Linked DNA regions of Homo sapiens. The protein of the gene in region 2 purifies or fractionates together with the protein of the main gene of each other region. This does not show direct contact. Each region holds a gene or a part of one and is shown on either strand. Other genes may lie near its edges. The genes, in order: JMJD4, SSH3, YBEY and ANGEL1.

Evidence for each region.
Region 1: the proteins of SSH3 (region 2) and JMJD4 purify together in Homo sapiens (affinity purification with mass spectrometry; 2 studies listed by BioGRID and IntAct, with this or other methods). This does not show direct contact.
Region 3: the proteins of SSH3 (region 2) and YBEY purify together in Homo sapiens (affinity purification with mass spectrometry; 2 studies listed by BioGRID and IntAct, with this or other methods). This does not show direct contact.
Region 4: the proteins of SSH3 (region 2) and ANGEL1 purify together in Homo sapiens (affinity purification with mass spectrometry; 2 studies listed by BioGRID and IntAct, with this or other methods). This does not show direct contact.

What each region holds. Positions count from the first base shown.
Region 1 is NC_000001.11:227,731,818-227,740,649, forward strand, and holds the start of JMJD4 (2-oxoglutarate and iron-dependent oxygenase JMJD4), read right to left. Parts: upstream 3,486-8,832; 5' UTR 3,457-3,485; coding exon 3,195-3,456; exon of another isoform or gene 3,000-3,194; coding exon 2,834-2,999; exon of another isoform or gene 2,216-2,833; coding exon 2,090-2,215; exon of another isoform or gene 1,865-2,089; coding exon 1,597-1,864; exon of another isoform or gene 1,211-1,596; coding exon 1,064-1,210; exon of another isoform or gene 860-1,063; coding exon 575-859; 3' UTR 1-574. Other genes in the region: SNAP47 (synaptosomal-associated protein 47), read left to right, coding at 3,593-3,682. UniProt on the Homo sapiens protein: Catalyzes the 2-oxoglutarate and iron-dependent C4-lysyl hydroxylation of ETF1 at 'Lys-63' thereby promoting the translational termination efficiency of ETF1.
Region 2 is NC_000011.10:67,305,953-67,313,572, reverse strand, and holds the end of SSH3 (protein phosphatase Slingshot homolog 3), read right to left. Parts: intron 6,736-7,620; coding exon 6,611-6,735; intron 6,532-6,610; coding exon 6,460-6,531; intron 6,203-6,459; coding exon 6,137-6,202; intron 6,025-6,136; coding exon 5,836-6,024; intron 5,728-5,835; coding exon 5,634-5,727; intron 5,400-5,633; coding exon 5,271-5,399; intron 5,162-5,270; coding exon 5,115-5,161; intron 4,177-5,114; coding exon 4,030-4,176; intron 3,806-4,029; coding exon 3,605-3,805; intron 3,508-3,604; coding exon 3,234-3,507; intron 1,983-3,233; coding exon 1,686-1,982; 3' UTR 981-1,685; downstream 1-980. UniProt on the Homo sapiens protein: Protein phosphatase which may play a role in the regulation of actin filament dynamics. Can dephosphorylate and activate the actin binding/depolymerizing factor cofilin, which subsequently binds to actin filaments and stimulates their disassembly.
Region 3 is NC_000021.9:46,281,141-46,290,049, reverse strand, and holds the start of YBEY (endoribonuclease YbeY), read right to left. Parts: upstream 3,709-8,909; 5' UTR 3,635-3,708; exon of another isoform or gene 3,307-3,634; intron 3,181-3,306; 5' UTR 3,137-3,180; coding exon 2,927-3,136; intron 1-2,926. Other genes in the region: MCM3AP (germinal-center associated nuclear protein), read left to right, coding at 4,764-5,982, 6,212-6,435. UniProt on the Homo sapiens protein: Single strand-specific metallo-endoribonuclease involved in rRNA maturation.
Region 4 is NC_000014.9:76,784,865-76,789,295, forward strand, and holds the end of ANGEL1 (protein angel homolog 1), read right to left. Parts: coding exon 4,364-4,431; 3' UTR 1,729-4,363; coding exon of another isoform or gene 1,505-1,728; 3' UTR 1,145-1,504; downstream 1-1,144.

The DNA.
Region 1 (8,832 bases), on a different chromosome or scaffold from region 2:
GGCAGGGAGGTGGCAAAGGCCAGCCCAACCCAGCCCTCCACTCTGGGTACCCAGAGGAAGGCGCAGGCCGCTGGTTCCACAGCCCATCACCTGGAGGTGATGGAGGCCAACCCCAGCCCTGCCTGGAGGCCCTGGTGAGCTTGCCCAGCACTGCTCCAACCCCTCCCTGAACCCACAGGGCAGAGCCAGGGGTGGTCCAATGGCCTGAGACGAGGGGACAGGGCTGGCCTATTAAGAGGAGCCACCAGAGAAGGCACACCAGACACAGACTCCTGTCAGCTCAGGCGTCCTGGCCTAAGGAGGCAGGGCCCCCAAAAGAGCCAGGTCCTGGCACCATCTCCGAGCTCCCAGCAGGCCTGCTGCAGGTCAGAAGGGCCACATCCCATCTTGGGTCCCTGACCTCATTGGGCCTCACCTGAAAACAGGCACCCAGGCAGTGGCCATGAACAGCCAGGCCACAAGCCTCGACAGGGGTGGGCCCCAGGTCACAGGGAGGGCGGTCTTTATTTCTGGAAGGGCCCCGGAGCAGGAGGCTGCCTCTCTTCCACCCGTCCTTCTATCCTCACGACAGGTGCTATGGGGCCGCAGCAGCATCAACAGCCTCTCTCAGCTGCTGCAGCAGCTCTTTGGGCTGTGGTGAGAACGCGCTGGTGTCCACTCTCTGGAAGTCGGGGTGCGCAACCAAGGAGGCCAGCACCTCTGTGATGCGCCCAACATCAAAGGCTGCCTGTTCGAAACCCAACCCAGCACCGTCCTCAGCGGCTGCCTCCCTCAGGACCAGGAGCCTCTTCTCAGCGATGACCTTGAGGAAGTGGTAAAACTCTTCAAAGTTGATGCCCGAGCAGGACCTCATGATGACCTGGGCAGAGGGAAGAGGCCAGTGAGCTAACACCATGGACACAGTCCAAGCTGCAAAGGACCCGACATGCGCCCAGTCCCCAAGGACGAAGAAGGGACCATTAAGACAGAGGCACTGAGAAGCTGCGCGGTGACCAAGGGAGTCTGAGCCATGCAGCCTAAAAGCCTCCCCCAGGAGGGTAGCCTCCATGCGTAGCCACCCCACCTGGCAGTGGTGGTGCCAGTCGGGCATGGAGTCCCTCCACTCGCTGACCTCCTCCTGCACGGCGCATAGCTCCTGCTGCAAGAAGCGCCACATGTTGGCCAGGTTGAAGCCATTGACCCAGTTGTGGTTGATGGAGATGGTGTCATCCTGGAAGGGGCACAGTGCAGGCAGGCCTGAGCCCATGGCAGGTGCCCCCTGACCAACCCACATCTCCTGCGCCAGGAACCCACTGTGGGGTCCAGCCCTCTGCAGCCAAGAGGGCCCTCCTGTCTCCCAGCAGGGCTTGCTCAGCAGGGAAGTGGGTGGCGGGCTCGGACCACCTCAGGCCACAGTGAACCCAGAGCAAGTAGACCCAGGGACCGGCAGTGGGTGAAACAGAGGCTAGGCCTCAGCGACACCACCTTGTGAAGGGGTCAGCCTCACCCATGAGCCACCCCATTCCAGCCCAGCTCTGGCTGGGAGAGTGGGGAGGTGGTGCTGCCGTCTTCCTGCAGGAAGGCCCCTGATAGGGGGCAGGAGAAGCAGCACATTACCAGGTTGTGCACCTGGTGGTGCCAGCCACTGGGCACAAACACCATCTCGCCCGCTTCCTGCGTGATCTCCAAGGGTGGGCCAGCAAGCTGGTTCCGTGGGTGCAGGTGTGTGTCGCAGAGTGCTGGGGAGGTCACGTCGTAGGGCAGGTTGCCGTGGCGGTCCCGCAGGGCCTCTTCCTGCCCTGGGGGGAAGAGGAGCCACTTCTTCCTCCCACAGACATTGACAGACCAGCTGAAGGAGCGGAAGATGTCAGCATGGAACGGGGACCTGCGGCAGCAAGAGCGCCTGGTTCATGCCTGTAGGGGCTGGTATGGGCTTTGCTTGGCACCCCAGAGGCCTGGTCCAACTGAAGGAGGGGTGGCCCCTTGGTCTCAAGGGATGGCACCCACTGTGAGGCCTGTGCCAAGCAGCCCCCCTCCTGCCACCCTGGGCCTCCCAGTCCGTTCTGTCACCAGGCCCCTTCGGGTTCCACTCCCACATCCGTGGCCTCACCAGCTGCCCGCAGGCCCCGCGTAGACAAAGCGGTAGTCATCCACATCCAGTGCATCCCAGAACTCATTCAGCCAGTCGGACGAGAAGTACACAGGCAGGGTGAAAACGTCCTCCACCGGAAAGTCCCTGTGAGGAGGGCGCAAGGGCACCACCGACAGCACGTGAGGCACGAGGAGACTAGGGCAGCACGAGTGGGGCAACTGAGACCAATCGGCTCCAGTGGAGCTTCCAGATGGCTGCAGCCCCCAAAGAGCCCCAGACCCTCCTCTGAGCCAGACGCTGCTGGCGGGGGAGGGGGCGGGGCAGTCTGACTACAATGGTTCTGCTTATTAGAAAGTACTGATCATGCCTATAATCCCAGTGCTTTGAGATGCTGAGGTGGATGCATCACCTGAGCTCAGGAGTTCAAGACCAGCCTGGGCAACATGGTGAAACCTAGTCTCTTTAAAAAAAAAAAAAAAAAAAAAAAAAGCCGGGAGTGGAGACGCCTTCCTGTAATCCCAGGTACTAGGGAGGCTGAGGAGATCTCTCTCAAAAAAAAAGGAAAAAAAACCATATTGACCTCCCAAAGAACAACACTTGCAGCCATGCGGAAGACAATCCAGTTTCTTTTAAACTGATTAAAGTGCCTCACGGGGAAAAATAGCTCCGTTGTGCACCCAGGGGCCACCTTCATCAGAAAGGCCTCTGGGTTCACGCAGCGCTAGGGAAGGCAGCGCCTCGGTGCGTCCCAAGCCCCATTACCTGCACAAGTGCCAGTCTTTGAGGTAGAGACAGCCCCTGGGAGAGGAGTAGCCCGCCTGTATGTACTCTTTCCAGTAGGTGATGTAGTCTCTGAGAGTCATGTGCTCTTTGGGGTTCGAGTTGTATTCCTGGACCCCACAGTTTGCAACTGGTACAACCACGTCTCCTGAAATGAAAGGCACGGTCCATGCCATCTCCCTGGGCCCCGTCCTCACTCCAAACCGTCTGCAGAGGAACTCTCCAGGGGCCACGCGCCTGGCCTCCCTCACCCTCCCTGGTGCCCCTCTCTAGGCGGGGGCCTCCCGGGCCTGGGTCCCGCCGGCCTTTCCTCCCCGCCCGGGGTCTGCGGCCGCCGCCCCACCGTAGGTCCGTAGCAGGTGGTCGAAGTCGGGCCTCCCCGCGGGCGTCACCCAGCGCCGCCGGCTGCCCCAGCCCTGCGTGAAGGCGCTGGAAAACACGCAGGGCAGGTTGGGCAGCAAGAAGCCCCGCACAAAGTCGGCGTAGGAGAAGGCGCCCGGCTCCGAGACGAAGGCTACCCGGCCCGGAGCCTGGCCGACGCCGGGGACATCGACCCCCAGGCCTCGGAAGTGGCTGTCGGCGAGGGCGCGCGTCTCGCGGTCCATCCAGCTCAGCACGGGTCGAAGGACCCTCCTCCTCACTTCCGCCGGAGCGGAAACGGTGAGGACCAGCCTCGGAACCAGAAGACGCAGGGCGCCGCGTTTCTGCCCCGCCAGCGCCTGGGGCTCCGGGCCTGCACGCATGCGCGCGGCTCGCCGCGGTCTTCACTGCGCAGGCGCCGAGCGGCCGAGGCGCCGCGGTCGGCTCTGGGACTCGTCTGGCGTCCCTCAGGTGAGCGACGGTGTTGGTCTGTTGGGCGCCCGGCCCAAGCCAAGCCGTAGCGTCCGCCCTCGGCTCAGTCCGCGCGCTGTGGCTGACACAGCCCGAGCCCTCCTTCCCGCATCCCCGGGGGGTGGGGGGTATGCGGGCTGCGCTGGGAGAGGGGCGGGGACAGAGGCGGTTCTGGGGGCGGGAGTGCGGCGGTGCGGGGGCGCCCAGGGATGATGGGACCCGGAGAGAACGGTGGGACCCAGAGGGAGAGCTGGGGGGCCCTGGGATGGTGGGATCTAGCGGAGATGGTAGGGTCCTGGAGGAGATGGTGGGGACCTGGAGAGGACGGTGGCACTTGGAGGGGATGGAGACGGGATCTGGAGGGGACGGTGGGACCTGGAGGGGATGGGGACAGTGGGGACCTGGAGAGGACGGTGGGATCTGGAGGGGATGGGTACAGTGGGGACCTGGAGAGGACGGTGGGGACCTGGAGAGGACGGTGGCACTTGGAGGAGATGGGGACATTGAGGACCTGGAGGGGACAGTGGGGATTTGGAGGGGACGGTAGCACTTGGAAGGGATGGGGACAGTGGGTTCCTGGAGGGATCAGTGGCACCTGGAGGGGACATGGGATCTAGAGAGGATGGTGGGGACCTGGAGGAAAATGGTGGGAGGGCTGGAGGGGGCAGGGTAACCTAGATGGGCGAATGGGGCCCACAGGGGACCTGGAGGGCATGGCAAGGGGCCCCAGGGGATGACGGGTGTCTGGAGAAGATGGTGGGGAATGAGGGAGGGTGTGAAATGAAGGTGTGGTGGGAGTGTGGGTAGGGATTTGGGGCTGTGTACACATGAGCAGGGCTGAAGTGGGAGGACATCGGAGTAGTGACATGAGGAGTGTTTTGCCAAACTTGCAACTGGAGTTACCCCAAAAGTGGCGGCAAGGGAGTTCCCCACACTATCCTCAGGTGGGACCAGTTGGGATACCAAAGAAAGAAGTGCTAAATGCATGGTAAGCCCAGAGCAGTTTTTTTTTTTTTTTTTTTTTTTTTTTTTTTTTTTGAGACAGTATGCAGTGGCACCATCACAGCTTACTGCAGCTTCCACCTCCTGGGCTTGATGAATTCTTTAATTCTGCTTCAGCCTCCCAAGTAGCTGGGACTACAGGCATGAGCCACTATGCCCAGCTTAGTTTTGTTTTTTTGTTTTTGTTTTTTTTTTTTTTTTTTGTAGAGACAGGGTCTCTGTGTTGCCCAAGCCGGTGTTGAACGTTTGGGCTCAAGCAATCCTTCTGCCTTGGCCTCCCTAAGTGCTGGGATTACAGGTGTGAGCCACTGCGCCAGGCCCTGCCTAGAGGTTTTGTTAGGGGAACTTTCATATAGAGTGGGCTGCGGTAGTCCTCGAGACGGGCAGTAAGGGAAAAGGGATGTCCTCCCTAGGTATGTCTCTTGGAAGGGGTGTGGGTTATGGAGTTTATAGGAAGGTTTCAGGAATTTGGCTCAGGGCCAAGGCCGTTTTCTTTGTAGTAAACCTAGATACTTTCTTCCATGCCTGGAAATGTTAAAGGCCCTGGATTGGGTTGAAGCCTGGTGGGGAAAACCTGTGGTTGGGGCACAGAGGGATCAGGGTACTCTGTGATTTTCGGCCAGGACACGAAAGTGGGGCCATGGGGGACCCTATGTGATGTATGTCTTGGTGTGCTGGAGAAATCAGCTCAAAGCTACCCACATGGATGCAGAAGGAAAGATAGCAGATTTATTGCCCCCGAAGCCTGGCAGGCTGTGTGCACATAGGTGCTCTGCGAGAGAGTGCAGAGTCTGGGCAGCATTTCCCAGGCGTCTTGACAGGGAGGTGGAAGGAGGAACAGTTAGAACCGCTCATCTCTCCCAGAGAAATGAGAGGCAGCTTGTGCTGGTTTGCACACAGTGCGAGGCCTTTGAGTTAGGTTTGGAGGTCTGATGACATTCTAGGGGCCATCAGACCATGACTGTGTCTTGTAAAATCTGGACACTGGGCTATCTCATTCCAGACCAAACAGAGGCATCCTAAGCGGGAGAGGGGCACCTGCCTTCCCTTTATGAAGCAATGGAAATGTTGTTTTATTTACTCTTATAAGTGGGGATATGGGAGGTTCTAGGAGTGCTGGGGCTCTGAGCCTTGCTGGAAGACTCTTTCCAAGGGGTGTGAGGTTTACCCAGGAGAACAGGGAGGAGCAGAAGAGGGAGGACCAAGGTCTGAGGAGTTGGAGGGAGGACTAGGAGGAAAGTGAGTTTTGGGAGTCTGAGTCCAGGTAAAGGTGGGATATGAGGGCAGGGACAGGAGGCGGAGAGTTGTTTTGGGGATTGTGTGATTCAGTGCGTGCTATGGTCCCTTCCTAGTCAGCCCTATTGTGGCTTGTGTGATCACGGTATGCAATTGTTTATTGGGGTTTTTTTTACACTAGAGAATCAGAATGTCTGGAGAAGTTACAGTTGCAGAGAAAGAATCACCTCCAGTTCCGTCCAGAGATGACTGGGGTTTTTTTGCTTTGGTTTTTTTTGGTTTTTTTGTTTTTTGTTTTTTGTTTTGTTGTTTTTGCTGTTTTGAGACCGCGTCTTATTCTGTCACCCAGGCTGGAGTGCAATGGCATGATCTTGGCTCACTGCAACCTCCGCCTCCCAGGTTCAAGTGATTCTCCTGCCTCAGCCTCCTGAGTAGCGAAGATTACAGGCGCGCACCACCACGCCCAGCTAATTTTTGTATTTTTAGTAGAGACGGGGTTTCACCATGTTGGTCAGGCTGGTCTCGAACTCCTGACCTTGTGATCTGCCCGACTCGGCCTCCCAAAGTGCTGGGATTACAGGCGTGAGCCACCGCACACCCAGCCGAGATGACCGTTTTTTATTCCTGGTGTAGAGCCGGCTTTTCTACATTCCTTCACACATACATTCATTCATTCATTCATTCTCTCTCTCCACTCTTCTCTCCCCCCAGTCCTTGCCTATACGTTCACGCACATGTATGCACACACACTCACACATACACAGTCTCTTTCTCCATCGTGTATAATATACATATATAAACTTTTGCTGCTTTTAGTCTTTTGTTTTTTATTTAACAATATGCTGTAACATCTTGCCACATATTGACCTCAATATTGACAATTAATTGACCTTAATTGATCTTGCCACATATTGTTCCTTAATTGCTAGTAGTCATTTGATTTTGGTTGTGGTGCATGCAGATCATGGGAGGCCAATGGGGAAGATGTGGGGAGCAGAGTGTTTATAATTGTCTCAAGATCTTGGAATATGGTTCCGAGTTTGCCTCATGGGGAAACTGAAATTCAGGTGGGCATTGCCTGGAAGGAGTTCCTGCAGCTCCGTGGTTGAGCCTGTTTCCTAAGAAAGGAGCATTTGGGCTAGCAGGTCCACAGCTCCCTGAGATCACTGAGCCCCTAGGACTTGGTGGGAGATGGAGCTCTCGTTCTTGAGATGGAACTCTGTGGTTTAGTTCGCTGGTCCGCAGGGTGCCCCCTCGGGTCAGTGTCACCACTGTATACGCAGGAGGCCTGGAGTGTTATCAGCTCTCATGGGACTGGAACATAGGCTTGTGTCACCCAGAGCCCGCTAGATCAGCCCTGGCATCGCTTGGGAATGGCAAGAAATCCACATTCTTGGGCCCCACACAATACTCCATTAGGATGGTTTTTTGTTTTTGTTTTAAAACGGGGTCTTCCTCTGTCACTCAGGCTGGAATGCAATAGCGCTATCTTGGCTCACTGCAACCTCTGCCTTCTGGGCTGAAGTGATCCTCCACCTCAGCCTCCCAGAGTGCTGAGATTACAGGTATGAGCCACTGTGCCTGGCCAGGACGGGTTTTAAGTCAGCACTTTGGAGAAAATGCAGTACGCTTTGTGCCGAATATGTGCTCCTCTGTCACTGTGTTGCATGCAAACAGCCCCAGTGAGGGTGTCTGCACTTTGTGGCTAGAGTTGGGAACCTCTGAGGGAGTGGAAAGAGGGTCTGAGGAGCAGGGGAGGGGAGCCTGGAAAGATTGGCCGCACCCTACCGCCCCTGTGGGCACACACAGCCACCACTGTTCTCACTTAGCTTCTTGGTTGCGAGGTAGTGGAAGGTGTGCAAGATGTTTGTTCTGTGACTGCGGAAATTAACTAAAAATAAGTTGTTTACTGGGTACTGAGCCTCACTCAGGGGACCCTTGAGTGATGGAAATGCTGAAAGAGACCCATTGTACAGATCGCCCTGCGTGCTGAGCCATCCCTGTGCTGCAGACTTCCTCCCCAAGAGCGTCACTTGTGTGGGTTGGCTGCAGACACCCTTGGGCCCCTGGCCATGACCTCCCTCGAGGATTCAGCTGTGTGTTCTCAGGGTCAGCGCGGGTCCCCAGGCCCACACCTGCACTGGAGGAAGGAGGTTGCAGATTGCAACAGGCAGGGACACCGTGAGGGCTCCAGGACCTGGACTGATTGCAGAACTATGTGGTACAGGAGGGCATAGGCACAGCTCTGTTTCCATGTGGTGTGGTTGTGGTCAACTCAGCACAAATTCATTGGGTGCCCATGGTGTGTAGCGGGCCTTGCGGCCCTCCCATGATAGTGCCTTCTGTAGTGCGACAGTCATGAAAGCACCAACTCTCTGGAGTTTTGCTTGGGCCATGGTTGGTGACAGTGCCTTAGGAAGGCGAGGAAGCCCTCCGAACAGAGACCTGCGGAGTGGAGCCACCAATGAGACTCCCTGGTGTGGAAAGGCTGCTGGGAGCAGAGGGCAGGGGAAGGCCAGGGCAGGGAGGCCGCAGGTCCTGCAGAGTCCATGAGGCTGCGGTAAGGAACTTGGATCTCATTCCAAGTACACAGGGAAAGGCTTTGGGCAGAGAAGTGACATATTCTAATTCTGTTCAATGACTATCTCATTGACTGCTGGAGGGGGAATGGGTGATGGGGACAGGATGAGGTCAGGAGGTTGCCTGAGATGTTGTCCAGGTGTGGAGGGAGGGAGGACTGCCTTGGATGGTGGAACTGTGGAAAGTAACTAAAAGTAGATTGTTTCCTGGAGATTGAGTCTCATTCAGGGGGCACACATATAATGGAAAGACTGAGAGAGACCCATTGTACAGATTGCAGTGTGTGATGAGTGAGTCCCTGTGACTACAACACCTTCCCCCAAGTGTGTTGC
Region 2 (7,620 bases):
CTGGGCAACATGGTAAAACCCCGTCTCCACAAAAAATAAAAGATAAAAATTAGCTAGGCATGATGGCACATGTAGGTAGTCCCAACTACTCAGGGGCTGAGGCAGGAGGATCCCTTGAGCCCGGGAGGTTGAGGCTGTAGAAAGCCAAGATCATATCACTGCACTCTATTCTGGGTGACAGAGCAAGACCCTGTCTCAAAAAAAAAAAGGAAGTGACAAAGATACAACCACTTAGCTAGGTGTGCCTGTGGTCCCAGCTACTCAGGAGGCTGAAGTGAGAGGGTCTCTTCAGCCTGGGAATTCAAGGCTGCACTGAGGCATGATCGTGCCGCTGCACTCCAGCCTGGGCAACAGAACCAGACTCTGTCTCAAAAAAAGAAAAAAAAAGATGGAATGACTAACTCTTCTTGGACACTAAAGTTGAGCAGAAGGAACCCCTGGGCAGGAGGGGAAGTGTCACCAAGGGTCCTTCTTCCCAGGCCGCAATAGCCTGGCTTGGAAAGTCAGGCCCTTTGCTTTGTAGCAGGAGGAAGGTGATTCTTGGGACCCAAAACATGCCAGAGAACCTGGCGCCGAGTGTCCCAAGGAGGCTTCGCTTTTGGAACAGGCTTGGTCCTGTCCAGGTAGGCACTTCCTCATGAGTAACCCCTTCCAGCTCTCACAGTGGAGCCACATGCCTGCTGCCCGCTGACGACTTCTTCCCTTGCCCGACCTGTCTGAGCGGGTGGGTGTGAGCAGGTCATATTTACCAGGCCCTGCCCCAGGAGATGGGGAGATAGCACTGACTTCCTCTCTTCTCTTACCCAATCTTCCTCCCACGCCACGCCCAAACACGGCACTCCCCCAAATAGGTCTGTCACGAGCCACCTTGGAATTGTGAGGAGACTGCTGGGAGGAAGGGGCGGCCACCTTCCCCAGCCAGCAGAGAAGGGTCTGACTGCAACACAGATGGCTTCATCGTCACATTGAAAATAACCAAATATGAAAATGTGTTTTATTTCTCAGTACAAAGCCAGATACTGTAAGGCTATGAAAAACTGACTAGCCAGAGGCCAGAAAGGACAAAAAGAAGACTATCTCTGGCCTGGTGCCCTGTGATCTGGCGTGGTGTCACAGGAGGTCTGGGGACAGCAGCAAAGACCTGGACCGGTGGAGGTGGATGAGGGAAGCGATCTGCCAGCCCTTCCAGCCTCCCGCGGCTGGGGCCTGAGGATCCTGCCTGCCTTTGGGGGCCACTGGTTGCCTGGCCTGGCTGGTTCCAGGAATGAACTGGGAGAGGACAGGAGGTGCAGGGAGGGGGCGGGGGTGGGAGGCGTGACCCTTTTTGCACGGGAAGCTCTGTTTTCATTCCGTGCCACAGGTGAGTGTGCAGGGCTAGAGTTGAGAATGAAACTAGGGTGCTGTTGCCCCCAAAGGTACCTTCAGTCCCTCTACCACATCCCAGTTAGAAAGTCTTGAGCCCTTGGACAGGCAGACATGGGCCTGGGACTTAAGGCTGTAGGAGGTGAGGCTGTAGTGACAGGGGTGGGAGGTGAGGCCGTAGTGACAGGGGTGGGAGGTGAGGCTGTAGTGACGGGTATGGGGCGGAGCTGAGAGGAATGTGTGCGGCAACAGACGTGAGGGTGTTTCTCCAAGGAGTTGTGGATCCTCTTCAGTGTCAGGGGAGCGTGGGCATGTGTGAGGGCTCAGGCCTCGCCCTCCTCTCCACTGTCATGCACGCTGGCCTGTCTCACCACCTTCCGGAACCTGGGCGTAGAGGAAATGCAGGGCTCTCCCTGCCCCTGCCCCTGCCCCTGCTCCTGCTCCTGGAAGGCCTGGGTCCGGTTGGCCACCACGGCACTGCCCTGGAGGGTAACCACTGACTGGCGGGACTTCAGGGCAGGCTGAGGCCCCCTGTCCACCTGCTGGCCTCCCTTGGTCCTTGCAAGCTGTGGGAAGGGCTGCAGAGGCTCTTCATGTGAAGACTCGTGGGAAGAGAAGACCTGGACAGGTGTGAGGATACGGAAGCCATGGGAGGCCTTTCTGGGGCAGGGGTGCCCAAGCACAGAGCCGGGAAGATCTGGGGCAGGGGTGCCAAGCACAGAGCCAGGAGGAGGCGAGGGCCGGAATGTTTGTGGCACGCACGCCAAAAGCCAAGCTGTCCACAGCCACGCTTCCTCGGGAGGGAGGACAACACCCCAGCCCTGCTGCCCCGCTCCTTGAACCCTACCTGCTTGTAGCTTCCTTCTGGCCCCCAGAAGCCCTCCTCAGCTCCCTGGAGACCCAGGCCTCCCTGCCCTCCTCCCCTCCTATGCTTTCTCTGCCTTTGCGTAGGCAGCCGGCAGGTGAAACCCGTGCCGGCACCAGCCCCTGAGCTGGGCTGGGTGGATGCGTGCGTCCGGTGCTGGGTGAGGACCTCTTGCCTTTAGCAACGCCCACACCCGCCCATCAACCCACCACGCCTCCCTATCCTTCCCCACCCACACCTCCTCCAGGAAGCCTCTCCCAAATGTTCCTGCCCTCAGTGGATGCTCCTTCCTCCAAGTCAGCCATTTGGCCTTGAGTCCCAGACAGGGCCTGGCTCCCAGGCTTAGGCTTGTGCCCGCAGCACTGAGCATCAAGGGTGCTGACTTAGGCAGGACTTGGGCGGCGTGAGTGCGCAGACTCCTCCCCACCCCATCCTTTGAGGTGCTGCTCCTCAGACCAGGGAGGGGCTTCAGAGATTAATTTAGCCTCCCCACCATGGGGTTAGAGATCGCCCCCAGGGCCTGCAGGGGCCTGTGGAGCTCATGGCCTGGGGAGGCAGCCCTGCCCCTGAGACAGCTAGTCCTGTGGTCAGGCTGGAACCTGCCCGCGATCGAGGCTGGGGCTGGCTCACCCAGGAGCCTTGGAAACAGGCACTGCTTCCTGCCCTGCCCCCGTGACCCCTCTCCAGCCTGTGCCTACAGTGCCTCCGCCTGCCCTCACTGGATCTCAGCTGCTCTCAGGGGCCCAGGACGTGGCTGGTCCCCATCTTCAGGGGTATTCATGGGACAGGCTGGAGACGCCGGGTGCTAAGAGATACTGGGCTGACTGTGAAGGAGGCTGGGACCAGGCCCCCTGGGTCCTCCCAGGACACCCTGCATGGGCGGGCCAGACTTAGCCCGGGTACGCCCTGCTCAGGTCTACAGTCAAACGCCCATCCTGGTCTTTCCCCATCTCCCTCCTTATGGCCCCCACCCCTGCAAGCTGAGCTCCCCCAGCCCCAGCCTCACCTCTGGCATGTCACTGGTCTCTGAGGTGCTCTCCAGCTCCAAGGAGGGCTCCAGAAGACTGATGGACCTCATGACCCCTCGGAGGTTTATACGTGGCCGTGGCCCAGGCTCTTCTTTCGGGGCTGCCTGGCTCTCTTCCATGCCTACAACCTTCTCCTCCCCACCACCCTCAGGTTCTGGCGGAAGAGGTGGGAATGGTGTAGAGACTTCAGGGGCTGGGTGCTCCTCTGGGGAGACCCCACCCACTTTCTGCTCCCAGACATGGCTCTGGCGGCTGTGAGGAGGTGGCCCTGAGTCAGCTCTGAGTGACCCAGCAGCCACCCCCAGCAAACCCACCTACTCACCCCCTGCCACTCGCTCCCATCCCATACCTGGCCGTCAGGATGCCCTGGTAGATCTGCAGCTGGCGCAGGAAGCCAGGGTTGGGGCGGGCGATGGGCCGGAGCTCCTGCACGTGGCGCAGGGCCTGCTCCAGGCTGCATTCGTACTGCTTCATGGCATAGGCCAGCACTGTGGCCGCTGAGCGGCTGACGCCCATCTTGCAGTGGACCAGCACGTGGGTGCCCTGTGCTCTGTGGAAGCAGGCCAGGTTCAGCACCCTCCCCTCACCATGAAGGATCCCGCCTCCTGCAGGGGAGGGCAGGTGAAGGGCTCACAACCAACTGAGAGTAGAGAAGGAGGGAAGGACACTGAGGGCTGGAAGGAATGGCACAGCTGATGGCAGAGTGGGCAGGAGGAGGGCACCGGAGGCCGCTTGAAGCCACAGTGGGGCAGGCAGCAAAGCCAGGAGACCGACCTTGCAGCCTCAATGAAGCGGTGCGTCTCCTTCCAGTGCGGCAGCAGCTGGGCCGACTCCTCATCCCAGAGGCGCACATTGTGGTAGGTGAAGCGCTCAGGGTAGAAGTTGTCAATCTCCCGGGCCATGTTCAAGATGTGGGTGACCCTGTCCCAGAGGGCCCAAGGCCAGGCTGATGTGGGCAGAGGTACCAGGCCCACTGGCAATCGGACCTGGCAGCCCCTGGGCCTCGCTTTAGCTCTGAGTTTCAAGTCAGATGGAGGCAGCAGTGACAGTGGGAGGAGAAGTGACCCAGCTGTCACCTGGCTGCGACCTTAGACCAATCATCTTGCCCTGCTGGGCTTGTTTCCCCATCTGGTCCAGACAGCTGGGCCAACTGCAACTCCAGCCCTTCAGTTATTCTCAGAAATGAGTTAGAGAACAGCTTTTGAGCTAAGCTGAGAGTGGGTGGGTCTGCAGCAGTGGGTGGCAGGGGCTACAGCAGGTCCCAGAAGCCCATGGTGGGCAGATGACAGGTACCTGTCAGAGCAGGCAGCCAGGTCCCCACGGGGAGAAGGGCAGTTCCTTCTTCCCTGAGACAGGGCAAGGTGGAGAAAAGGCTTTTTCTCTCTTTCTTTTTTCTTATTTTTTAGAGACAGGGTCTCTCTCTGTTGCCCAGGCTGGAGTGCAGTGGCGTGATCACGGCTCACTGCGGCCTCAATCTCCAGGGCTCAAGCGATCCTCCTGCCTCAGCCTCCCAAGTAGCTGGGCCCACAGGCGCATTCAAGAGGAGCCTTTTTCTGCTTGTCCAAGGCAGTTACAGCAGTATGCGCTGCTGCTTCTCGTCTTGGCGTGGCTGAGGCCCTTTGTTTCTGTCCTTGTTTCACAGTGTGGATGGGGGAGGAGAGTGGGCGGGGGCTGGCCAGCAGGTCTCCTGTCCCCACCTGGGAGCCCACACCAGGGCAACAGCCCCAGGACAGAGTTAGAAGCAGAGCTAGCAGCTGCTGAGGGTGGTCCAGGGGTTTTTGAAGCTGGCTACCACCCAATGCGGGGAGGCCAGGAGAAGGGAAGATGGGGTGGGTGGCCCGAGGGGCTCATAGCCCTACCTGTTCCTCTGCAGCTCCTCCAGGTTTGCTGCGTTCCACTCTGAGCCCTGGGAGAGAGGGAACAGCACATTTCTCCTCTCCTCCAGCCTCTGCTCCTGGCCTGCCGCCCTCACAGCTGCCAGCGGTCCCCATGGCCCAGGCCTGGCTGAAGCTCACCAGGTAGAGGTGGGGGAAGATGCGGGAGGCTCGGTCCCGCTGTGCCACCAGCAGCAGCATCTGGTTGTCGATGAAGTCACGGTACTGCTGGAGGGGGAGCCCCAGGCGCAGCTCCAGAGCCTGGCGGATCTGCAGGCAGAGCCCAGGGCAAGAGAGGCTGGGGCTCTCCTAGTGCCCAACCTGCCACCTTCCCTCTGGGACCTCTGAGGACAGCACCCTATCCCATCTAGATGGATTAGGGCCAAGGCCAAGGCATCCAGGAATGGCTCAGGACTGGAGACAGGCAAGGTGGGGAGGGCTCCCAGGAAAGGCAAGCTTGCAGCCCCTGCTAGAGGGGACTCAGTCCCCGGGCCCCCTGCCCACCTCTTTGGAAGTGACACTCTCCAGGTCACTGACATCCAACACTTTCCACAGCTCAGCACGGATCGCCTGCTCCATCTGCTCCTGTTCTGAGGACCTGGGAGCAGAGCCCCTCAGTCAAGGGGCCCTTTCCCCTCTCCACCATGCCCCCCACTGCATTATCCTGCCTTCCCCTCCACCCAGTCCCTCCCCTCCACACACTGACCCGCCAGGCTCGGCGCTGGGAGGCCGCAGAGACTCCAGGTCGGCCATAGCCGTCCACTCATTGAGGCAGCTCTGTTCGGAGTTCAGTCTCTCCTGGTAGTGGCTGGCCCAGGTGAGGGCACTGCCACCCGGTACAAGGCCGCTGCCTAGAGCTGCCTCACATGCTTGGTGCAATACCTGGAGTGTGGCCCTGAGACAGGAGGAGAGGCTGGGTCACACTGTTCCCTTGCTGCCCTTCCCCAGGCCCTGCAGCCTCCTTCGAAGGAGAGGCTGGCCTGAGTCCAGGCAGTCTCTGTCCTTACCACATGGTCTGGATGGAGATGGGCTTGAAGATCCGGCTTTGCCCACCAGACGTCACGCTGAAGCCCCTGCAGGAGACCAGGCACAGGTGAGGCCAGACTCCAGGCTCTGCGACAGAGAACCCATCCTTTTGCTGGATACGGGAAGCCGAGACCCAGGAGTCAGGTGCCTTGCTCAGGATCACGGTGAATCTGACGTGGAGCTGGGAGCAGGCCCCAGAGTCCCAGCCTAAAGTTCTACTGTACCCTGGTGCCCAGGCCCCGTCACATCCGTCACACTCAGTTATTCCACCCTCCAGCCCCCACCTCCAGTTGCCATTGCTTACCCGTCTCCATCTAAGTACACCTGGGTGTCACTCCAGAGGGGCAAGACCAGGCCCAGGGTGCAGCTGGGGGAGCTGGCAGGGGACAGAGGGAAAGCCATTGTCCCCCCTGTCCCTCACCTCTTTGCCCCTCCTTTCCTCTCCCTGCTCGAACCTGCTGTCAGGGAAATCCACGCCCAGGAGGACCGTCTCATCCTGGCTCAGACCTTCTCCTTCTCGTGTAGAAACTACCAGCAGGTAGCGGAGCCGGGGAGGCCGGGGTGCCTCCAGCTGGGCTGCCTGGGGGGAGATGAGGAACCCAGGGTCACAGTGGCCCCAAGGACCCTGCTCCCCACCTAGACACCCCAGGCCCAGAACAGTGCTGACCCTGCTCCTTCCTCTCCCATCCCCCCTCTTCCCAGATGTAAAATCAGTGGGTAAAGAGGGACTGTGTGGAAAAAAGCGGGGAATGGGACTGACATAGGTTGCACATTTTTTGTTTCTGCTGAGGAAGGAGGTTGTTTTTGTTTTTGTTTTGAGATAGGGTCTCACTCTGTCGCCCAGGCTGGAGTACAGTGGCACCATCACAGCTCACTGTAGCCCCGAACTCCGAGGCTCACATGATCCTCCCACCTTAGCCTCCCAAGTTGCTGGGACATCAGGCCCATGCCACCATGCCCAGATAATTTTTAAGTTTTTTGTTGAGATGAGATCTTCCCTATGTTTCTTGGGCTGGTCTTGAACTCCTGGACTCAGGCAATCCTCCCTTCTCAGCCTCCCAAAGTGCTGGGATTACAGGCGTGAGCCACTGTGCCCAGCAAGAAGGAGGTTTTTTCTTTTTTTTTTTTTGCAATGGAGTCTTGCTCTGTCACCCAGGCTGGAGTGCAGTGGCGCAATCTCAGCTCACTACAAACTCCATCTCCCGGGTTCACGCCATTCTCCTGCCTCAGCCTCCCGAGTAGCTGGGACTACAGGCACCCGCCACCACGCCTGGCTAATTTTTTGTGTTTTTAGTAGACACGGGGTTTCACCGTGTTAGCCAGGATGGTCTCGATCTCCTGACCTCGTGATCTGCCCGCCTCGGCCTCCCAAAGTGCTGGGATTACAGGCATGAGCCACCGCGCCCGGCCAGTTTTTTTTTGTTGTTTTTTTTTTACCCTGTCACTTGCAAATGCTATCATTTCA
Region 3 (8,909 bases), on a different chromosome or scaffold from region 2:
GACAACCTTACACACATACAAAACTGCAACCTTGCACAAAGGCTATGACAACCTTACACACACACACGAAACTGCAACCTTGCACAAAGGCTATGACAACCTTACACACACACAAAACTGCAACCTTGCACAAAGGCTATGACAACCTTACACGCACACAGAAACTTCTGCAAGGATAATCTGCCCAGCAACTGCCTGTCTAACCTTGGACGGACATTAATCTTGTTATTGATCTTTGCAACCAAGGATCATTATCTCAAAACAATTATGTTTTTTTCCTTTAAAAACCTTTGCCAGGCGGGGCTCAGTGGCTCACGCCTGTAATCCCAGCACTTTGGAAGGCAGAGGCGGGTAGATCACCTGAGGTCAGGAGTTCTAGACCAGCTTGGCCAACATGGTGAAACCCCAACTTTACTAAAAATACAAAAAAAAAAAAATTAGCCAGATGTGGTGGTGGGCGCCTGTAATCCCAGCTACTCGGGAGGCTGAAGCAGGAGAATCGCTTGGACCTGAGAGGTGGAGGTTGCAGTGAGCCGAGATTGTGCCATTGCACTCCAGCCTGGGTGACAGAGCAAGCCTCCGTCTCAAAAAAAAAAAAAAAAACAAAACCCTTGCCTTCCTTTACCTCCCTGAATATGCGAATATCCACACAGTCTACTATGGCATGTGGCATGTATTTTCACTGCAATGCTCTATCCCAAATAAACATCCTTTTCTTTAAAAGCCTGTTTGTTTAGGTTGCTATCACCTTGTCAAATGGCTTTTCATTTCTTTCATCCCTCCCAATGCAGAATCACGCAGATCCACAACTTCTACAGAGTTAAATCATCACATGGACACGACTGTATATTCCTGTTCTTTCCACTTGGTATTTTGTCCTAAAGAGTCTTTCACATTTTCCACATAAAGACTATAAAGACCAGTCCACTTAGTTAAGGACTGTTCACACTAAGCCAGTCACCTATGGCTGGATATTTAGGATGCTCCTCTTATTTTCCTATTACAGAAAATGGTAACTTTTTTTTTGAAAAAGGGTGTTACTCTGTGGCCCAGGGTGGAGTGCAGAGGTGCAGTCTTGGCTCACTGCAGCCTCAGTTTCTTGAGCTCAGGCGATCCTCTCACCTTAGCCTCCTGAGTAGCTGGGACGACAGCTCTGCACACCACCATGCCCGGCTAATTGTTGTTTTTATTTTTTGTAGAAACAAGGTTTGACCATGTTGCCCAGACTGGTCTTGAACTCCTGGGCTCAAGTGATCCTCCCACCTTAGCTTCCCAAAGTGCTGGGATTATAGGCCCAGCCAATAAATTAACATTTCAATACATTTTTACGTGATTCAGCATTTTCTTTTCTTCTTTTTTTTTTTTTCTTTTTGAGACGGAGTCTCGCTCTGTCGCCAGGCTGGAGTGCAGTGGTGCAATCTCAGCTCACTGCAACCTCCGACTTCCTGGTTCAAGAGATTTTCCTGCCTCAGCCTCCCGAGTAGCTGGGATTACAGGCAAATGCCACCACACCCAGCTAACTTTTTTTGTATTTTTAGTAGAGACGGGGTTTCACCATGTTGGCCAGGATGGTCTTGAATTCCTGACATCGTGATCCACCCACCTCGGCCTCCCAAAGTGCTGGGATTACAGGCGTGAGCCACTGCACCCGGCCTCTTCTGCCTTTTGGTTTATTGTCTTGGGTGTGTCACCACAGGACTAAAGGATACATGTGTTTGAAATGCCAAGTTGCTTTCCCAAAGGATTGCTCCAATTCCTGCTGCTACAATGTGGGAAGCCTTGAATGAAGTCATCTACAGAATGTAGATAATAACCTGACTGCTATTACATTGAGTTTGTTGGAAATATTTACCCCAGTCTGTTTATTTTCAGTGTTGTTTTAATTTTTCCAATGTGCACATATTCATTAACGAATCCCACTTAAAACTGCAAAAATATTGCAGAAGCAGTTTGCTTCTCTCTTCTAATTCACTGAGAGCATTAGGAGGGGAAGGGGGGTGGACGCTAGTCACCTTTTTCTTTTCTTTTTTTTTTCCTGAGACAGAGTTTCGCTCTTCTTGCCCAGGCTGGAGTGCAATGGTGTGATCTCAGCTCACTGCAACCTCCATCTCTGGGGTTCAAGCGATTCTCCTGCCTCAGCCTCCCAGGTAGCTAGGATTATAGGTGCCCCCCTCCACCTCCCGCCCGGCACAACCACACCCAGCTAATTCTTTGTGTTTTTAGTAGAGGCAGGGTTTCACCATGTTGGCCAGGCTGATCTCGAACTCCTGACCTCAGGTGAACCACCCGCCTCGGGCTCCCAAAGTGCTGGGATTATGGGTATGAGCCATCGCGCTCGGCTGTCACCTTTCTTTTTCCTGCTGGGTTACCAGTGTAATTGTAGACTCTGGGTGATGGGCCTCGATCAGTGGAGGCTGAATATACTGCTCTCTCTACTTTTGTGTATATTTGAAAATTTTCAAAATTAAAATTAAAAATCATGTCTGTAACATATATACTTATAGGCACCATGGAGCCTAGCCTATAATATAATTAATACATGAAATTTAGGCCGGGTGCTCTGGCTCACGCCTGTAATCCCAACACTCTGGGAAGCCCGAGGCAGGCAGATCACCTGAGATCAGTTCAGGAGCAGCCTGGCCAACATGGTAAAACCCCCGTCTCTACTAAAAATACTGACAAAAAAAAATTAGCCAGGCGTGGTGGCCAGCATCTGTGGTCCCACCTACTGGGGAGGCTGAGGCAAAAGAATCACTTGAACCAGGAAGGGAGGTTGCAGTGAGCCGAGATCGCACCACTGCACTCCAGCCTGGGTGACAGAGCAAGACTCCGTCTCAATTAAAAAACAAAACAAAACAAAACAAAACGACAGGAAATTTACTCTGGGAAGATGGGCTAGACAAGAAGAGGAACATTTTTTTTTTACCTCATGAAATGGAAAAGAAAGCACATCGGTTGGGACATTTCTATCTCTGTAGATTCTATTAATGTGCTGAATATTCTTGTTGTCAACACAGATGATCCCCAGGTCAAATTTCTGCACTCCTAAAATCCTCCTTACAATCTCGATCTTACTGCGAAGTGGCGCTCTCCTGATGGGGATGACTCGCTGCAGATTTCTAATCACCAAACTCATTTCAGGAAGAATAACCAGCCCTTTAAAAATGTTTGCAACGGAACCTGGGGTTAAAGTGTAAGAGAAGACCAATCAGTACAAGTGATAATACGGTCTGTAAAAATACAGATGCACGCGCAATCAGATCACTTTATTTGGTGGAACTGATTGAAAATCTTAAGGGAATTTACATTTACCACAAGGAGGAAGCAACAACGAGGGTCTATGGAAGGATGCCGCGGAATCCGGCCAGAAGGACTCCAGGCGGGCGGAGCGGAAGGAGCGGTTCCCAGAGAAAAGGGGGCGGGTTGGGGGTGCGCGCGGAGAGAGGCGCGCGGACGCGGCGGGGTGCGGGGAGGGGCAACGGCTGGGGAGAGAAGGGGCTGGAATGGGGGAGGGACAGGAGAGGGGACAGGTAAGCGTTGGGGGCCGGGTCCTCTGGGGTCTGGGGCGCCCGCAGACCCACGCGGGTGAATGCGACGCTCTCGCTTGGGAGACTAAAAACCCGCCCGGACGTACCGGTGTCTGGACCCAGCAAAGGACGCGAGAGCGGGCGGACCCTCCCGACCGGAAGCCCCGCCACAGAGCGGGTTGTGGGGAGCGGAACCGGATCGCAGCGGGCGGGGCGGAATCCGGTAGTGCTGAGCGAACCGGAAGTCGGTCCGCGGCGTTTTCTGCCCGCGGTGCGCAGCGCTGAGTGTCGCGGCAGCAGCCTGTGCTTGCGCCTCAAGTCTTTCCGAGGGGCCAGTGGGCAGCGCGGGCCTCGGGGTCCTGGGGCGAGACGGTGAGCGTGGGGGCTGGGCCGGCGCCAGGGGCGCCGTTTCCTTCCCCCACGCAGCTCCGCGCGCCCGGGCCTCCACATCGTCGCTAACGGAGCGTTGCGGCGCCGGCGACCCCTGGCGAGCCCGGGGCGGGACAGTGGCCAGGCCGGCCTGGGCCCAGCGCGTGGCCTCCGCCGTTTCGGGCTGTGCTGGGTGGAAGATTAGGCTCCCCGGGCACGCCGTCCCCGCCGAGAGGCCTCAGCTTCGTGGCAGCGCCCTCGTCCTTCCAGCCCGCTCGAGGGTGGCCGCCAGGGCGCGATGAAGGAATGTGAGAAAGTGCTTAGCGCTCCAGCCGCTCCGAGGGAAGCCAGGTGGGAGGAGATCCCGAAACGCTAAGGTTTTGACAGCGTTACAGTGAATTCTCCGGCTGTAGAGATTGGAGGAAGTCGGGAGAAATTCGTCTCTAAGTTGTAAGGTGGAACAGCATTCATTTTCTTACTGCCAATGGAGGTTTTTCATGAATTTACTAACTCAGTAAAAAGATTCGGCTTTTTTTTTTTTAATCTTAAAGGATCACGCTTTAAACCTCTGTAACAAAGTAATTATTTGTACCACTCTCTACCCCACCCTCCAACAAAATAACCTATCGGCTCTCAGAAAATAATAACCCTTTGCCTGCCTTTGAAATAGTTATCCTTTTAGTATGACAGTGTTCAAAAATTCTTTTCTTAGACTTGTAGCAGAACATAGCTATGATGATCTGAATTTTTCTCTTTCAGCTTGTTCTAAAGACGAAGGGGAACTCCCTAGTGCTACAGGCTGTTTCAGGAAGCCAATTAATTTTGTACACATAATACTTAATTACCTTCTAATAATTGGAGCAGAAGATGAACCCAACTAATCCTTTCAGTGGGCAGCAGCCTAGTGCTTTTTCGGCGTCTTCTAGTAATGTAGGAACACTTCCATCTAAGCCGCCATTTCGATTTGGTCAACCTTCTCTTTTTGGACAAAACAGTACCTTATCTGGGAAGAGCTCGGGATTTTCACAGGTATCCAGCTTTCCAGCGTCTTCTGGAGTAAGTCATTCCTCTTCAGTGCAAACATTAGGGTTCACCCAAACCTCAAGTGTTGGACCCTTTTCTGGACTTGAGCACACTTCCACCTTTGTGGCTACCTCTGGGCCTTCAAGTTCATCTGTGCTGGGAAACACAGGATTTAGTTTTAAATCACCCACCAGTGTTGGGGCTTTCCCAAGCACTTCTGCTTTTGGACAAGAAGCTGGAGAAATAGTGAACTCTGGTTTTGGGAAAACAGAATTCAGCTTTAAACCTCTGGAAAATGCAGTGTTCAAACCAATACTGGGGGCTGAATCTGAGCCAGAGAAAACCCAGAGCCAAATTGCTTCTGGGTTTTTTACATTTTCCCACCCAATTAGTAGTGCACCTGGAGGCCTGGCCCCTTTCTCTTTTCCTCAAGTAACAAGTAGTTCAGCTACCACTTCAAATTTTACCTTTTCAAAACCTGTTAGTAGTAATAATTCATTATCTGCCTTTACCCCTGCTTTGTCAAACCAAAATGTAGAGGAAGAGAAGAGAGGACCTAAGTCAATATTTGGAAGTTCTAATAATAGCTTCAGTAGCTTCCCTGTATCATCTGCGGTTTTGGGCGAACCTTTCCAGGCTAGCAAAGCAGGTGTCAGGCAGGGGTGTGAAGAAGCTGTTTCCCAGGTGGAACCACTTCCCAGCCTAATGAAAGGACTGAAAAGGAAGGAGGACCAGGATCGCTCCCCAAGGAGACATGGCCACGAGCCAGCAGAAGATTCGGATCCTCTGTCCCGGGGCGATCATCCTCCAGACAAACGACCTGTCCGCCTGAATCGACCCCGGGGAGGTACTTTATTTGGTCGGACGATACAGGATGTTTTCAAAAGCAATAAGGAAGTAGGTCGTCTGGGCAACAAGGAGGCCAAAAAGGAAACTGGCTTTGTTGAGTCTGCAGAAAGTGACCACATGGCTATCCCAGGAGGGAATCAGTCTGTCCTGGCACCTTCCCGGATTCCAGGTGTGAATAAAGAGGAAGAAACTGAAAGTAGAGAGAAGAAAGAAGGTGAGCTCTGAAAATGTAGCACATAGAGTAAATCCTGCAGGCAGGTTTTCAATACGTTTCTCTGGGTGTTAGCTTGATTTTTCAGATAAATCTCCCATAAACATTAGGGATTCTAACATGTCATCGGAGCAGGTCTTACATCTGAAAATTTCCTCTGCTTCGACACAGTTGGTGCCTCCTGTTGTTGGAAACATCTGATGGTTTAAGTGTCCATTCTCTGAACCCCTAGATTCTCTAAGAGGAACTCCGGCGCGTCAGAGTAACAGAAGCGAGAGCACAGACAGTCTTGGGGGCTTGTCTCCCTCTGAAGTCACAGCCATCCAGTGCAAGAACATCCCTGACTACCTCAACGACAGGACCATTCTGGAGAACCATTTTGGCAAAATTGCTAAAGTGCAGCGCATCTTTACCAGGCGCAGCAAAAAGCTTGCAGTGGTACATTTCTTTGATCATGTGAGTACTCCCATCTTGCCATTTGTTACCCTAGATTTGAACCTTGTCACTTTAAAACCTGTTTTTTTTTTTTGGTCCCTCAGTTGTTTGCTTACTATAATATAGAGAAAGTACTCAAATATCTTATTAGCATAGGCTGGGATAGCACTATTTATTTCATAACTTGGCATATTCTAGGTCCCTACAGAATATAGTACTCTAGAAATGCTGGGAGAGTTGTTCTCATGAAGTGAAATTCTTCTGAAAGGCTTTAGAAATTCAGAAATTCTTCTGAAAGGCTCTAACCACATAGTACTTTTGGAAGTTGAGTTTTTTGGTTTTGTTTTTGTTTTATTTGGTCATAGAAGATGATCGCTGTAAACGTTCAAACAATACAGAAAAAGTGAAATTGGCCGGGCGTGGTGGCTTACGCTTGTAGTCCCAGCACCTGGGGAGGCCAAGGTGGGCGGATCATGAGGTCAGGAGATCCAGACCATCCTGGCTAACACGGTGAAACCCCATCTCTACTAAAAATACAAAAAATTAGCTGGGTGTGGTGGCTCGCGCCTGTCATCTCAGCTACTCGGGAGGCTGAGGCAGGAGAATTGCTTGAATCCGGGAGGCGGCGGTTGCAGTGAGCCGAGTTCGTGCCACTGCACTCCAGTCTGGGAGACAGAGCCAGACTCCGTCTCAAAAAAAAGAAAAAGAAAAAAAGTGAAATTCCCCTTGTCAGTCTGTCCTCTAGAGATAACTGCTTTGAAGCACTGGGTTTGTATCCTGACTTTAAATGTATGCATAATACTTTCTTTTTATTTATTTATTTATTTTTTTGAGATGGAGTCTTGCTCTGTCACCCAGGCTGGAGTGCCGTGGCATGATCTCGGCTCACTGCAAGCTCCACTTCCCGGGTTCACGCCATTCTCCTGCCTCAGCCTCCGGAGTAGCTGGAACTACAGGCGCCCGCCACCACACCCGGCTAATTTTTTTGTATTTTTAGTAGATACGGGCTTTCACTGTGTCAGCCAGGATGGTCTCGATCTCCTGACCTCACGATCTGCCTGCCTCGGCCTCCCAAAGTGCTGGGATTACAGGCGTGAGCCACTGCGCCCAGCCTAAATGTATGCATAATACTTTCTAGGGTGCAGTGAACGTGGACTGCTTATGTTATATAGCTTTATATCGTCACTATTTTTTCTGAGTATTCTCATAGACAAAATTACGTTCTATAGGAATTTATAAAGTATAAATTTATAAAGTGAATGATACTACATTGAGTGGATGGACTACGTTTTGTTGATTCGTCTGTTGGCAGACGCGGGTTGTTTCTACTTTTTGGCTATTGTGAATAATGTTCATTGGCATATGACTTATTTGAGTCCCTGCTTTCAGTTTTTTGGGGTATATTCTTAGGATTGGAATTGCTGGGTCATATGGTAATCCTAATTTGTTTTTAGTTTTAATTTTTTTAATTAAAAAAAGTTTGTATTTTTACATTTGTATAGATGGGGTCTTACTGTGTTGCTCAGGCAGGTCTCGAACTCCGGTCCTCAAGCTGTCCTCCTGCCTTAGCCTCCCAAAATGTTGGGATTACAGACCTGAGTCATTGTACCGGCTCTCATTTTTGTTGTTGTTGTTTTTGAGACGGGGCCTTGCTCTGTCTCCCAGCCTGTATTGTAGTGGCGCAATCTTGGCTCACTTCAACCTTTACCTTTCCAGTTCAAGCGATTCTCCTCCCTCAGCCTCCCAAGTAGCTGGGATTGTGTGTGCACCACCATGCCTGGCTAATTTTTGTAGTTTTAGTGGAGAGGGGGTTTCACCACGTTGGCCAGGCTGGTCTCGAACTCCTGACCTCAGTGTTCCACGCACCTTGGCCTCCCAAAGTGCTGGGATTACAGGCGTGAGCCACCATGCCTGGCCTTGTTTTTATTATTTATTACTACTATTTATTTTATTGTTATTTTATTATTTATTTATTTTTTTGAGATGAAGTTTCACTATGTGGCCCAGGCTGGTCCTAAATTCCTGGGCACAAGTGATCCTCCCACCTCCACCTCCCAAAGTGCTAGGATAACGGGCATGAGCCACCATGCCCAACCCCCTTTTGTTTTTACAGTTATTTTTTGCCTGTTGCAATGTGCTTATTTTCCCAGCTGAACCTTAAATATTTTATGACATAACTAATATGTAAATAGACTGCCTTTATAAACAATTCATTGATACAGACAAAACTGAATATCCTCATCTCTCCTGTTACTCAGGAGCAGTCCAGTTAACTAGTGTGATGTGTATTTTTTTAGACATTTTTATGAGTGTATCTACACGGAGACTAACGTGGTTGGTTTTGTGTGTGTTTTCTGTGGTAAGTGGCATCCCATGTGTGTTATTCTGCAGCTCCCTTTTGTGCTTAATTGTGACTTCGCAAACTTTCTGTCTCTGTATGTGTGATCAGCTGGTGAGAATCATCTCACCAAATGCCAACAAGGCCAAGTTTGTGA
Region 4 (4,431 bases), on a different chromosome or scaffold from region 2:
GGCCCATACCTGGAACAGTCTTGTCTAGCACATTTGCTCAGGAGGGAGAGGAGAGGGGATGGACCAGAGTGATGGGAGCCCAGGGCTGCAGGGCAGCTCCCCCTGGTGGACCCTAGAGGTGGCCCCTCCCACTCCTGGGAGAAGAGAAGCCACACTGTGCATTTCGCAGCCAATCAAAACACAACCCTCCAATAGAGGGCGGAATGGGGTTACCAGAAGCTGGGAAAAGCAGGGGAGGAGAATGAAGAGCAGGTGGATGGTACAAAAATATGGTGAGGACTAAGTTCTAGTATTTGATAGTACAGTAGGGAGACTATAGTTAACAATTTATTGTATATTTCAAAATAGCTAGAAGAATTGGAATGTTCCCAGCACAAGGAAAAGATAAATGCTTGAGGTGATAAATGTCCTTAAATATCCTGACTGGTCATTACACTTTGTACGCATGTATCAAAATACCATATGCAGCCCCAAAATATGTACAACTATCACATGTCAATTTTAAAAAGGAAAAACAAAACAACCAGAACATTCCTCTAGTTAGTAGCTACAACAGGGCAGGAACTGGAGAGAAAAACAAAACAAAAAAAGCAGCAGCCTCCTGACTGGCCATTTCCCTTCTTGGTCTCCAGTTAAAAGCTGCCTCTGAGCTCCCCCAGCCCCAGGCCCCCACCACCAGCCTCTGCCTTCCAAGATAACCTGTCTTGCCTGATCCTGGAAAGGCTTGTGAGAAACTTGGGGTGGTAAGAAATAAACCAAAGGAGATTCTCAAATTCTATCTCTGGGATTTCTGTTTCCTCAGGTGTAAAGGTAGAATCTGAACACCACCTAAACTGCCACCACACAGTGCCACTGTCTTTGCTAGCTGACGTGGAAGTACTGTGCAAACTTAACAGAAGTGCTGTGGAGATGCTAACTGACTGAGGCAACTAGGAGGAACCCTCCCTGCCAGGAAGAGGTTCTTGGGGATATACCTCAAAGCTTAGGGCTTTCAAATACTTCCTAGCCAATGGGCCCAACTGTCCAGCCTGGCTGGGGTAACGATCTACTCCCAACTCCTACCAATAATTCTCTGGAATTCTTAGCACCTTTTTCTTGCCAAAGCCCAAACAAAGCAATTTCAGATCTGAAAATTCTTCACAAGTAGAAGTGATTATTAACTTTAATTTCTATTTCACCAAGGAATGTGAACTGAAATACAGAGAGGTTAAGTAACTTACCTACAGTCACCAGCTGAACAGGCCAAGAGGACAAATGATGTTTCTAATTCCTAGCTGAGTTTTCTTTCTTTTCTTTTCTTTTCTTTTTTTTTTTTTGAGATGGAGTTTCACTCTTGTTGTCCAGGCTGGAGTGCAATGGCATGATCTCGGCTCACCACAACCTCCGCTTCCCAGGTTCAAGCAATTCTCCTGCCTCAGCCTCCAAGTAGCTGGGATTACAGGCATGCGCCATCACGCCCGGCTAATTTTGTATTTTTAGTAGAGACGGGATTTCTTCATGTTGGTCAGGCTGGTCTGGAACTCTCGACCTCAGGTGATCCACCCGCCTCAGCCTCCCAAAGTGCTGGGATTACAGGTGTGAGCCACCGCACCCGGCCGCTAAGTTTTCTTTTTACTAAATCAATTGAGGGGATCGCAACCCAGGTAGTGCAATGGAAGCAACCAAGTGGCTTTAAATCAATCAGATTCTCAGAGACTGATTCAGAGGCCTGGTGTGGGTTCTGGGAACCTGTTCAGGTAAGACAGAAAACCAGATCTGGTTTCAGGGCTCCCAGTGGGCATGTGGGCTTGGCTGGTCTTACTACATAGGGAGGTTGGAAGACAAAAGCACCAACAGAGGTAGGCCTAGGAAGGAAGAGACATTTTTCCAGCGACAGATGGCCCACTGCTCAGCCCTGGCTCCAGAATGCAAAAGAGATCAGAAATAGATGCTCAGCAAGAGGCATGTGCCACCCGCATCATGTCTCATGCAGCTGCCATAGCTTTAATCAGGAAAACACACATCTTATCCCACTTTGCACAGACCCTCCTGAAGTGCAGAAGATACTAGGAGGAGGCATGGGGGGAGCAGATGGAGGAAGAATGAAAAGCAGTCCAAAGAATCATTCTCTCACTTGGGAAGGACAGAAGAAAGCTGTACCCCAGCAGTGTCAAGGCAGGAGGCTTCACTCAAGCCCTGTTCCTCCCAGGCCTCACAGCAGTGGGAATTTACCTCAGCTAATAGAGGGAGATCTTACAACACATTTCTCAATCTAGATTCATGTCTTGAGACCCCACCCCAAGATCAAAAGCTCCTTAGTCTCTTCCTCTGCCCACCTCATTCTTCAGGCCCTCTCTCAAGGACCTAATCCCTTCAGGATCCTAATAAAATGAACAACATTGGGGGGAAAAAAGGTAAACCTTTATTTGGAAAAAGAGTTTAAATAACAATTTAAAACCCCATTTCACTTTCAAAACAGAAACAAGAAAGCAAGGAAAAGATAATCTATCAAGCATCTGCCCTCTGCTGTGGTTAGCCATTTTAAAGCTGCATTTCCCAGCAGAAGAGAACAGTGATGGGCCCTAGTCCTAGGAACCCACAGGGCACTGTCTTGAGACCCTTTTAGGCAGTGTCCAGGGAACAGACAGACAGAATGAATGGTGGGGTGTAGACAGACCTGGGGCTCAGACAGGCACATGCCCAGTACCCAGGAAACAAAGTTTGAAAATATATACACATAGAAAAATAAATTCCCTAGAACCTAGGCATGGAAAGCTTCTAACCATGAATGCAGCAGCACAATGCAAACTGGGTCTTTGGCTTTCAAAAAAAGGAAAGAACCTTAACCCCTGGCTTACTGTCCCGAACTCAAGTCTCTTGACCACTGTCTTCAGTCCCACTTTGGAGGTCGAGTGAGGCAAGAGCAAGTCAAATCTACCAGGGCCAGCAGCCACTCTGACTTAGGGAGATGTGTGGAGGGGCTGGCCCAGGATCTCCCAAGGCCACACCCCAGCAATGAAAGATTAAGGCATGCAGGTGACACAGTGTGGACTAAGGAGTCCCCTGAATAAGCCAGGGTACCCTTCTGTTAGGGGAGGGAAAGCAGACGCAACAAGCAGCTGAGGCCTTGCTGGACAGAGCCAATCCGCAAGTACTGCCACTTCAAATTCTTGGACCAGTTTTGTCCAAGGCCACCTTTCTGCTGAGGCAGTTTGGCCTGAGCTAAATACCAGGGTTTTCTAGAAAGGAAATGGAAGGGAAGCGGGAGATGGGAGATAGCAGAAAGTAAAAAGTGGTGGAAGGAGAGGAACAGAAAATTGCTTCTTAGGAGTGGAGAGGAAAGAGAATCAGCTTAGGTCTTCAGTCCCAGCTGAGGCAGCTGAAGAGTCTACCTGCTCCTTCCCCTACTGGAACTCCTACCCTTGCCCCAGTTCTGCAGGCTGCAGAGTCCAGTGAAACAAGAGTTTCCTGAAGACTCTTTCTCCTCCTAATCCTTAAATAGTTTTAAACCTCATACCACTACCCTAGCCCAATGAACCCCACATAAGGGTTCAAACTTCCGCCTCCCTCAGGGAAGCCTGGGGAAAGGGATGGCCCTTGTGAAATTACACCAGGTCTGTGGGGAGCTCTGGGTTGGAGGCACAGGGCCAGCTGGGACAGGTAGCGCATCCCCCAAAATTTGCCACTCCAGGATGTGGGCCCCATTTGTTCCCAGAGCCCAGACGCCGGGCCTGCCCTGGTTGGCAGGATGAATGCCTAATGAAACACAGAGGCTAAAAGGAGAGATGGGGCCATGCCCTGCTGCTGCCTGCTCATACATAGGTACTTGGGTAGACTCTGAACCTGCCCCAGGCCTACAGCCCCAACATGAAAAGTGGACTGGTCAGAGGCAGGCATGGCTGTGCAGAAGTCTCACCCCAAGAGGACACATACATGATATGCATATCTCACATATGCATGCCTGGCAAGAGGGCTGGGCCCAGAAGTCCTGAAGGCAGGGAAAAGGTCAGGTCAGAAGGTACATCAAGAAACGGCCTGAAAGCAAATAACCAATGAAATCAAGAACTCCCATAACCCTGGTAATTAAAAATCAAGGGGGAGCGCTGGATACATGGAAGGAAGGGGGAGCCCCCCTTCTGCCTCTCCCAGGGCCACTGAGTGTGTGGCACAGGATTAGGAAGAGGCTGGGGTGGGGCAAGGACCACAGGCAGAGAACGCAGCCAGGCCTGGAGAAAGTCTAACCGTGGGAAAAAGGGAACGAGGAGGGGGAAGGGAGGGGATGTAAGTTTCTTGGATCTAAGTTTCTAGATGCATGGGATTTTTCCACAGTCTCTGATCCAGTGAGCTCTTCTGGAAGAGAAGCTCTCTTCCCCTGGGAGCCCTGTCATGGGGCGGTGACTTCCATCCCGAAGCTGGCTAGCAGGCAGAGGTGGTCTGAAGAGCAGAAGGGGT